Regions from separate parts of the Homo sapiens genome. Here region 2 is linked to region 1. The links come from fine-mapping of genetic effects on plasma protein levels. Region 1 holds a variant in brackets. A gene starts in the other region. All regions are shown on their forward strands. Region 1 overlaps PRDM16 (PR/SET domain 16). Region 2 holds the start of SERPINI2 (serpin family I member 2).

What was found. A credible set is the group of variants that fine-mapping cannot tell apart. PIP is the chance, under the fine-mapping model, that this variant and not a neighbour inherited with it causes the effect. Protein levels are from antibody-based Olink assays in UK Biobank. Linkage for the fine-mapping came from a reference panel and not from the study's own genotypes, which makes the PIPs less certain.
Region 2: SERPINI2 starts here. The variant in region 1 is the best candidate, but not a certain one, in a credible set for the plasma level of the SERPINI2 protein (UK Biobank, PIP 0.70).

What each region holds. Positions count from the first base shown.
Region 1 is chr1:3,275,787-3,281,166 of GRCh38, forward strand. The region is part of intron 3 of PRDM16 (PR/SET domain 16); the gene reads left to right. It overlaps LOC124903828 (collagen alpha-5(IV) chain-like), which reads left to right. Exons shown (of 2, transcript XM_047436627.1): 1 at 1-5,380. Among named protein-coding and RNA genes, the nearest start is that of MIR4251, 150 kb to the left of the region's middle. RefSeq lists an enhancer at 1-667. The variant T/C (reference allele first, on the strand shown) is at 1,970.
Region 2 is chr3:167,472,305-167,477,641 of GRCh38, forward strand. SERPINI2 (serpin family I member 2) reads right to left here and starts at 1,738. Exons shown (of 9, transcript NM_006217.6): 1 at 1,699-1,738. LOC105374197 (a long non-coding RNA gene) reads left to right here. Exons shown (of 3, transcript XR_924683.3): 3 at 2,068-2,156.

The DNA.
Region 1 (5,380 bases):
GAGTCATTCCAAACTGGGGAGAGCCGTGCACATCCAGCGTGGAAGTGGGTGGCACCCAGCCAGGCCCTAGTCTCTTCTCGTGGGGCCAGCGTCTGAAGATGCCCTCCCAAGCCATTCACATTGCGGCCAAGACCATGTTTCCCTTTCTCTGTGACCCAGCTGCGCCCTGTGGGTCTGTGCACTCCAGCACACGCGTGCCTGCTGCGGCCTCCCCGGTCTCTCTCACGCCGTGGGTGCCATTTCCGCTCTGCCGGCTTTGGTCTCCGGACACCACGTCGTGTTGACAATTACCCACAGCCAGGACTTGCCAAAACCTGGAGTTGAAAGGGCTTCAAGGGGGGAGAAACCAACTGGAAAGCTGTTTTCTGTTAAGGCAGGTTTATTTTTCCTTGCAATTATGTCTGACTAAAATGTCCTTGTGCGGGAGTCACTTCCCAAGAGAGGTCTGATTCATCCTGCCCTGGGCAGCCCCCCGGCCCCCGCCATCCTCGCCAGGCCTGCCATTGGGCCCGCGGTGGGAGTCCTGGTCTCAGCACCGCAGACTCCAGCAGCGACCAGGCCTCTTGAGGGGCTCTGTGGGTCCATCCCAGGATGGAAAGCACCCCTGAACCTCTGGGAGCTCAGGAGGGGAGCGTGGACTCTGCTCGTGCCCGGCCCTGAGCTGCCTCTGCTGTGGGAGCCTCTCATACCTACATGAAGTCAGCTGCATGAAGACTGGCCAGCGACCCGGACCCGCCCGCAGGAAGGCCCCACGGCCCTAACTCCGCCGGTGTCTGACCCCGAGCTGTCCCAGCCCATGGCCTAGAGGAAGCCCAGGGTTCACATCCCAGGGAAGCTGCAGGGCCTTGGCAGCATGTTCAGCTCGTCGGCCCCAGCCAGCTCGAGGTGCCGTGAACAGAGCCAGCGAGGGGTGCCGTGAACAGAGCCAGCGAGGGGTGCCTGTTTCCTCACGGTTTCCCCTTTCTCCCTGGAGAACAGCGCCAGCCGCCTTGTAAATCACCCCTTTGCCCCGTCTGACATCTCCTGTTGCCTGGGCCGCCTCGGCCTGGACCCTGAGGCCAACCTAGTGATGGAAAGAGAGCGAGCCCTAAAGGGGGCTGGGCTTGGTCAAGTTCAGCACTTCCTCCGCCATCTTCTCCCCATCCCCCATCACGACCCCGGGCAGCGTCTGCCTCTCGTCCCCGTGGTGTTTGCCATCACCAATCCGTTTGATTGATCATCTCGGTGGCCACAGGTTGGTAATAAAGCTGGTTTCAGAGCCTCTTGCATTTCCCCCAGGACCCCGTTGGCATGACAGGACTTGACACCAGCCATTCGTCACCTGCTGCCTGTGGTCTCTGCACAATGACCAGCAGACAGACAAGAGCCAGGCCAGGAGGAGGCTTCGGGAGAGGCTGGGCCTGTGCTCAGGGCTGAGTGAGACTAGTGGACGTGGCCGGCCCCATGCCTCTCTGTGCACGGCTGGATCTTGCAAACAGTCGAGTCCTGGCTGCTGCGCCACCCGGGGATGGCATCGTCTGTCACACGCTTCACTCTCCCTGTGGCGCACTGGCATCCACCATGCCCACCTCAGAGGCCAGGAGGCACGTCAGCCGGGAAGGCTGCAGGGAACCCCCAAGCCCAGGCCACCAGGGCCCTACCCTGCCATGGGGCGCACTTGCTCAGGCCTCTCCTCACCACAGGGTCTCTGGGTGCCTCTGTGAAGACAGGATCCCAGTACAGGAAAGCCCCAGGCTGGCCCCGACCCTCTCCTTTTCTGGGAGGAAAAATGGGTTTATGTTGTGAATCCGCTGAAGCCCCTGGGACGTTGTCCAGGGACAGGGTCAGTGAAAATGTCTCAAAGGTCGGGGACTGGGCACAACGAGGCATTGACCCCAGATGAATCCACAGAGCTCCCGGAGCAGGGGAAGTAGCCCTTGTTCACCCACATGCACACACACACGCGCGCACACACGCACACGCACACACA[T/C]GCACACACGCGCACACACACGCACACATATGCACACACAAACGCACAGTTGTGAACACGAGCATATGCACATGCACACACGTGCACAGGCACATGTGCATAACCACTGTGTAAACACACCCAGGCACAAACAGGAACACAGACCCATACACTCATGCACATGAGCACACGCACTTTTCCAACACCGTGAAGTCCGTGCATCCGGGAGCTCTAGGTCAGCGATCATTGCTAGCAGGCCATGGGACCCTCTCATCTGAAAAGGAGGGAGGGCAGGGCAGGGGCTTGTAACCAAGAACTGTGTCTGGGGTCATTCCTAATTCAAGTCTGAGACAGTGTGAAGGCTTCTTCTCATTCTCATGGCCATTTCCCCAACCCCACCCAGGTCCCTAAAGCCCTATCATAGCCTGGCCTTACCGTCCTCGCCTGGTTTTCCAGCCTCCCACCCTGCCTGGGGCAGAGAAGACCCCCTCAAGGCCATGCTGCATCTCCTCCAGCATCCCAAATCCTCCCCATGGGCCATCTCCCACATGGTGTGGATAAAGGGGCGTCTTTCCTAGGGACAGCCTGGCTGCGCCCTTGCAGCCACACCTAGGCCTAATACTGTCTGGATGGCAAACAGGGAGCTGAATGAACCCCACTGCACAGGCAGGACCCCAGGGGCAGCCTGCAGAGTGTGGGAGGGGCCTGTGTGGAGTTCACATTCATGCAGGATATTTCAGCAGCAGCACATTTGCTCACATCGGCAACCCCCTCTTCTAAGCACCCACCTAAAGCGCAGTCACTAGCAAATGGAACATCCCTGTGCTGGGCATGAAACAGGCCCTGGAACCTCAGCCGCACCCGGCACCCTGCTGCCCGGCGGGGCCTGCAGTCAGCCAGGACACCCGGCAGCCACAAGGCCGCCCTCTCTGGAGCCTGTGGTCTGGTTCGGCTAGGGTATTGTGATCTGAGGACCCTTAGAAAACTGGCCACCCGAGAACTTTTCCAGTGTGACTGCTGGCCTCTCTGGCAGACGTGTCCAAACTCAGAAAACCTCTGCTGCTCTGACCACAGGGAACGTCAGAGGGGACGGGGCAGCGGAACAAAGCACAAAGCGTCCCTGCGTCCTCTCAACGTGGCCCAGCTCCTGCAGACACTCAGCGAGCCGTGGCCTCTCCCATCCTCCCACGCTTCCCTCCGGCCGGCCCTGGAGATCCGTGGAGCCACACGGTGCCGAGCGCGGCGCTGGCCGTGTGCTCCGTGTCTGTCATCGTCAGCCCTGTCCACCTTTGGGGCAGGGGCAGCTGGGCTGGCTCCAGTTTCTCTCCATGTCAACTTTGCAAAGGAAGGAGGTGGATGCAGAAGCTGCCACCAATAGCCACGTGGGCAGCTGTGGCCCCGAGTCCGGGGATGCAGTTGGTCATCAGGAGCCTCGAAGCGTCGCTCACCATGCCTGGAAAGACCGGCGGCCTCTCCTGCCCAGGCGCAGGCCCTCGGCTCAGCAGAAGCCCTGCAGAAGCTGGAGCAGGAGGCATCCCTGGGTCCGGCACAGCCTGTGGTCAGGCCGCCTCTGCAGCGGGGCAGGGTAGATGTTCTCCCCTCAGATCTGAAACGCAGAGAGGAAGGGCGGGCCCTCGCGGTGCCTCGGGGCAGCTGTGCTGAGCAGTGTCAGCCGCTCCGGGCGAGGGACCAAGTGGCCACACTGGCCGCAGAGCTGCCCTGCCCGGCGGCGTCAGTCTGGGACGCCCTGCACGCCTGCCCCTGCCACCAGGCTGGCTTCCTTCTGAGCTGCCTCGGCCGGAGACCCCTTGTGACTGGGCTCTCTGTGGATGACAAAAGGAAAGACTTGAGCAAGAGGCTCTGAGGAAGGTGCCGGCCCCTCTCCAGACTCCTGTGCCACAGGCTGAGGACGGGCAGCCGTCAGGGAGAGTCTGTGCTGCAGGAGGGCAGAGGGTCGGGGGAGTGGAGCTGAAGGGGATGGTGGAGGAAGGAAGGCAGGACAAAGGGGCCTCCACCGCCTCCTGCCCCTTTCCCCATTGCCTGAGGACCAGAGCCTGCGGGGGGGTGGGGACAGGGAAGTGGCCTCCTGGGCCAGCATATCCCTGAGCCAGTGTGGAGTGGACAGGCGGCCCCTCCTCCCACCCCCCCCGGGCACCCACCACCAATGTGGGTCCACACCATTCCCCATGACGTCAGCCGAGAAGCATGAGCTCGGTCAAGACAAAACCTCATGGAATCCCGAGTCTTTTAAAAGAAATATTGATTTATTTTCCAATCACGATAATGCCATACTTTTTTTGTAAAACAAGCAGGGTGAAAAAAAAAAAACATTTAAATAAGAAAGTCAGAATTATCCATGAGTCCTCTATTGCTGTGTGGAAGCCAGTTATGGTCAGAGAGAGACATTCAGCACCCACTGCATGGGTAGGGGGTGGCTGCCCCGAGCTGGTCACCAGCTTAGTGCCAAGTCTGTGGCTTGTTGAAGCCGACTCTGTGTGTTCGTGTGTTGGTGTGTGCATGTGACGTGTGCACATGAATGTGCGCATGACCTGGTGTGTGTGCACGTGTGTGTGCATGCTTGCAGCCCAGTGGCTGTCTCAGGGGACATGTCTTCAAGTGTGTGGCTCCCTGTCTCACCTGGGGCAGGTATATCTGGGAGGGTGCAGAGTTCTCTGTTTGCACACAGAGGAAGTGGTTTTCTGCCTGAGTCCCCCCACCCTTACTGCCAGCGTCCAACCTCACACCAGAGAAAAGCCAGAGTTTCATGTGCGGAGGGACGGCGTACATTCCAACAAGGTCCGTCCTTCCCACCTCAGGCCTTCCATCGCCTCCCTCGACTCCCACCTGGAGCCTGGAGGCAGCTGGAAGAACCCACCTCTCACCCCAGCAAGGTCTGTGGCGTTAAGGTCACACTGGCACCAACTAAGAACTAAGACCTTCTCTGAGGCATGAAGGCTGTTGCTTAGCTTTGAAAACAGTAAATGTGAATGAAAGGGAACCTTGAGAAAGACCCGTTCCTAGGTGAAGTGAGAAGCAGGCTAGACTGGCCGTCCCGGGCCATACCCACCCTGTCTCCAAGGGGTCTCTGCCCAGGAGAAATCAAAGTGGGGTTCTCACAGCCCCTGGGGCAGGGGCAGGGAAATTTGGTCAGAAACAATGCGGAGCCCCCAGGGCTTTTGTCAAATCTCCATCCATGGGTTTTGTTTTCTCCCCAGTTCTGAATCTGGGAGGCCGAGTGGCTGCCCAGCGAGGTTGGCTCTGGGCTGAGGACAGCACTGCCTGGGCCTCCTTCCCTGGGTGGTTGTTCAACACCGGGCAAGTCCCTGCACCTGTCCAGCCTCAGCCCACTGTCTCAAAAGTGGGGCCATTGGCATTCTGGACTGTCAAGAAGCTTGAGAAACTGGGCCCTAGGAGGATGCTGCAAGATGCCCA
Region 2 (5,337 bases), not on the chromosome of region 1:
TATTAGAAAATTAATGTATTCTAAAGCAACTGAGTAATCTGGCTAACTTTTTACAATTTTCCTCACGCTTTATTTCTTAGGACAAAATAACCCAAAGCCCTCTTCCTGCTTTTCCAAAAGAAGACAAATACAATGCAGAAAACCTGCAAAGTTTGAAACAAAATGGCAATCAAATATAAATGATACAATAAAGTACTATGCTCACTACCTGGGTGATGAGATCATTTATACCCCAAACCTTAGTGTCAGGCCATATACCCATGTAGCAAACCTGCACATGTACATTAATCTGTAATAAAACTTGAAATTATAAAAGAAAAAATATAAATAAAATGAAATATAATATCAAAGAATTGACAGAAATACTAACAAATGTAAGAGTAGCAGCAATTAAAAACCATAAACAATTCACAAGACTAATAATACCCTATTAAAGTGCTCTCCACTAAAATTGCAGGAAATTCAACCATTTGATTATATCTCAAGCAGAATTAGTTTTGCAATATTACCACATATTTGGTAGAATGTTGACTCCAAGGCCTCATAAATTTTAGTAACAATAATTTTACCTTATAAATAATACATGTTAGTAATCCTTAAAAACTTATCCATCAGTAAGTTACTAGGAAGTAACCCTTAATTAGGGGTAAAGATGAAAGCCTTTAGAATAGTCTGTTGTCAGCCTTAAGTAGAGACTTACATTTCTAGAGTGTTTTGCAGATCATTAAGGGTACCATAAATGGTAGGAGTCCCTAAGAACAACTATATTTATATATAAAGATTACTAATAGTCAAATATTGTTCCAAATTAAACTATGGAGTCATTATTTATCCTTCAATGTATTTTGTTAAACTGTATTTGTTTAGATATATATTTGCAAAAGACAAAAGCCTCAAAAAACAATCCAAAGCAATTGTTAGAAAATGTGTTGGTAAACTTTAGATATAGACCTATATGCTATTAATATCAAGCAAATGTTTCATTAGGGATTAATTTAGCATATGAGCTTATAAATGAGAGTGCAACAATAGTTAAAAACCAGTGAGTAAGAGAAGTTTTACATGCAAAATAAATGTCTGTGTATCATTATCTTCTAATATATTCAATTTCTCAGAAGACTTCTGACCAAAATATGTGTTTGTAGATACGTAGTCAAAATGTTATTAGTACCTTTAAGTTATCAACTGGAAATACATTAGATATAGCTTTATGTATTTGGTTTATATTGGAATAATGAACAGTATTATTAAAAATGTAATTTTTTTCTTTGTGGTAGAATCTCAGTATTAGAGTTTCCTTCTCATTATTATTAATAATCTTAATAATTAAATTTATATTATTTGAGCATCCACATCCATTTTTTCTAGAAAATTTCTAAGCACTTAATAAATTATAACCTCAGACAAATATTGGTTTTAAAAACTCACTTACCTCATCAGGTTTTGGATCATATCTTATCAGAAAGCACAAAGTAATGCTGAACTAAACAACCTGATGAATAGTCCTATAAGAACTGGATCTTCTGATTTGTGGTGAAATCATTTAAGGAGAATAAAAGCGATATGTTAATTAAATAAATTCAAATGATTTTTACACCAAAGTAAATTGAAATGCCATTCCATACTCTACTAAACATTCATAGGCAATGTTATTGCATACATACTTATTCAAAAGCTATTTATTTCTAAGGTACTTACCCCAAACTGACTTCTGATTATTCACTGGAATGTTACAACTAAAATACGCTTGCTGGAAAACTCTTGTACATAAACACCTGAGCGATCAAGGCCAACTCCATTTATCTTGACCATTGCTTGATTAATTCCTCTAGAACAAAAGCAGGTGTTCACTACATTTGTATTAAGAACTAACACAATCGGGTTAATGATCAACTGATGAAATGTGCAAGAATTGAGAAAAAAACAATTATAGAATTTTTTAAAAGTATTAAATTTATATTATTATTTTATCCATTATTTTGCTTCTTTTAAAAGTTGCACAGAATTTGAAAGGATGCGCTACTGGTTGTAAATTTGCTAGTAATTAGTTCTTTTTGTTTCTCACAGGACTCCTACATCAGATTACCAATGCACTTTGTCATAAATATTTCAGAATGCCTATGAGAAAAAGAATAAAGCTAAATCAAGTCCAGAATACAGAGACAAATCACTGCTGCATTGACAGAGTTCTCAACATTCATCAAATTATACAATAGTCAGAGGAGTTTCCTGTGGATATAAGGTCCATTTGAATCCTTAAGAAAAAGAGTGGATATTGAAGAAATATGTTCTTTATTCTGAGCAGAAAGGCCAGCAAAAAAGATAATGGATTTGCCAAAATATATCAGGACAATACTATTAGCCATAGGTAATTGGATGATAAAAATTGCTGTTACCTTTATGTGCTTTTGAAACTCTACATGATTTTCTTTGCAAAAAGGTCATTAATAAAAAATTGCATAATTTAATGGGTTTCATCTCATTTTTGTAGTTCAAATCAATCACCTCAATGGCAATCAGATATTAAGCACATTGTATTATTTATCTATAGCCTTTGAGAAGAGAAAAAAAATTTAGTTCACTTTTAATTAAATATCTGTTGATCCCCAAATTTAATACTATTTCTGATAAACTCATGTAAAAGAAATAAAGTGAATATAGATAGCTTTAAATGGAATTCATTTTTAAAAACTTGTCAGAGGACCCTGTTAACATCTTTCCATGTCCTAACATGGCTATAACTTAAAAATAGGCCTGAGAATAGATCATTATAGGCCATAATCTACTAATTAACTAAAATTTTTTGATTTCCCATATAGGCATCTCCAAATGTTTTCTAGATCTTGAGTTTTATTCTAATATTACCTACTCTATCATAAGCACACTCTAGTGTAGCTTTAACTTAACACAGAGATAATTTTCCAAAAAGAGTTGTGCAATACAAGAATACTATCATTCTACTTGCTTCACACTGCAATACATAAATATTAAGTCTGAATGTCAAGACTATCATTCAATCAATGCTTTTCTACCCATTTACTGACACCAGCAAACATATATCACCAGTACCCTTGGCTACCACATCATTATGTCTGTACACTGCTCAGATCACAATGTGATTTATCCAGAAATAGTCCATTACTTTTCCTACCAATGGCAGAGACCGTCACTCTGTCCTACTAAGACCATTTAATGAAATTGTTCTGTAAGGACCTTATATTAGAGCAGTTCAGGCAGAATGTTCATTTTCCTGTCTCTTGAGGAGTAAAAAGCAATAGCCATAAATTTATTCTCCCTGGTTTAACCTCTTTTAATAGACAATGACGACAATACAATTGTCCATAAAATATTACCACAAATTTTTAAAATATTTTCCCAAACCGCTTTTTTCTACAATTCTATTTTGCTCCTAGAAAATCGGGGTGGGGGGAGAATTATTCATTAATGAGAGCCAACGTGTCTTGGTAGAAGGTTGATCGCCATTACTGTCCGACTGTAAAGTATAAGCCTAGGAATATATATAAAAACCACAGCAAAGGGTTACAGTTATCATCTCATCAATTTTCTTATCCTTTTATAGTTTTTTCAAGTAAAAGTGCACTTAATTCCAAACTTTAAAAATGTATAAGCAAATGCCCTCATCAGTAAAGAACTTAAAAGTTAATTCTTCCATTTAAGCATGGACTCATTTCAGGCAATTTTTTTTGGTAAGATTGTTCCTAAATTTTGAGTGATAATAGGAAAATGTTCTGACAAAAGAAAATGTTAAATTATATTTAGTGTAAATATAAGTAATACAAACAAGGTAGCCTATTGAAAATTATGACATATCCTATTTTAATGTGACCAATTCCTTTTACCACAGAAAAATGGATCATAAGTAATTGAATCTGAATGTTAATTTCAGAAACAGTTTATAATGCCTTCAGTTCTGTTAAGAGTTGACAGGTGAGATCCTGCTACCTGCCTAGAAAATTAGATGCTGTGAGTTACAAAAGAAGAGTAAGACACAGAAAAAAAGACATTGTCTTTTTTCTTCTTTTTGTGTTTTTTCTCCAAATTATTAGAAACAGTTACCTTGAAAGTCTCATACCTTTAAAAGTTCTCTTCTCATTGAATATATTTATGAGACAGCTCTTCTTAATTCCTTTTACAGAAGAAGCCCTGATGTTAATTAAGGATGGAATTAGAGTTACAGCATAATACCATGCACATGTAGTAGGCTATAGAGAGAAGGTCTGTCTGTATGAACCAGACTATCTCAGGCTATCACATCAAACAAAGTTATCTTCAAGGGTAAACAGTAAAGTATATCTAGCAAAAGAATTCCCAAATTAGACTGGAAAAAATATGCCAGATTATGAATTTCCAACTTATGCCAGTGGGCTCATTTAGTATTGGCTTAATAAACCACTACATTTTATATAGCTTCACTTCAGAACGCTGAGGGTAGAAAAGGTGCATTCTATTTATATGTGAATACCCGGAACCTAAAATAATCTCTTATACATGCCTTCAATACTTACATGAGGGATGGACGGATCAGTGGGGAAAAGAGCCTTTGCAAATTATTTGGTACCCGCATTCTACTTTTATAACATCTTAACATTCCATTAAATTTCTGGGCATGTGGCTCAGATTTCACTCCATTGTACTATCACCAACCTATGATTCATAAATCATGTGCTCTGAGTTTGAAATGATGGATTACCCAGTCAAACCTCCTACCCAGTGCAAGAAGTCTTTGCAATATCCCCGTGAGACAGTTACCCAGTGTCTGCTTGAACATCTCAAATAATCTTTTTGTTCAAAAGCAACTTTTTATATTTTAAAAAAATTTACCTTGAAATACTTTCAAATTTACATAAAAGTTGCAGATATAGTTCAAAGAACTGCTATCTCCACCTCCTCCTCTTTCCCCAATTGTTAGCATCTACCGCATGTGTGTGTTTCATCTATGTATCTATCCTCCCAATAAGCAAACAGATGTAAATATAGATATGTATATGTGTTACCTGTGTGTGCATATATATACATTTTATATATACATATAATTAGTATTTTCTGAATCATTTTATAGCAAGCTAAAAACATAATTTCTATCATACTTAAACATTCTATTATTATATTTTTCTAAAACAAGGACACTTCTTGTACATCATCACACCACCCAACAGACAAACACACACGCACACACACACAGAGACAAATATACTTTTCTCCTACAATCTTTCCTGCATGTAATTTTCATTCCATGAGGAGGAAAGGCGATATGAATAGAAGTCATAATGCCTAACTCAGAATACACTTAAATGTAGTTAGAATAGGCAGCTGTCT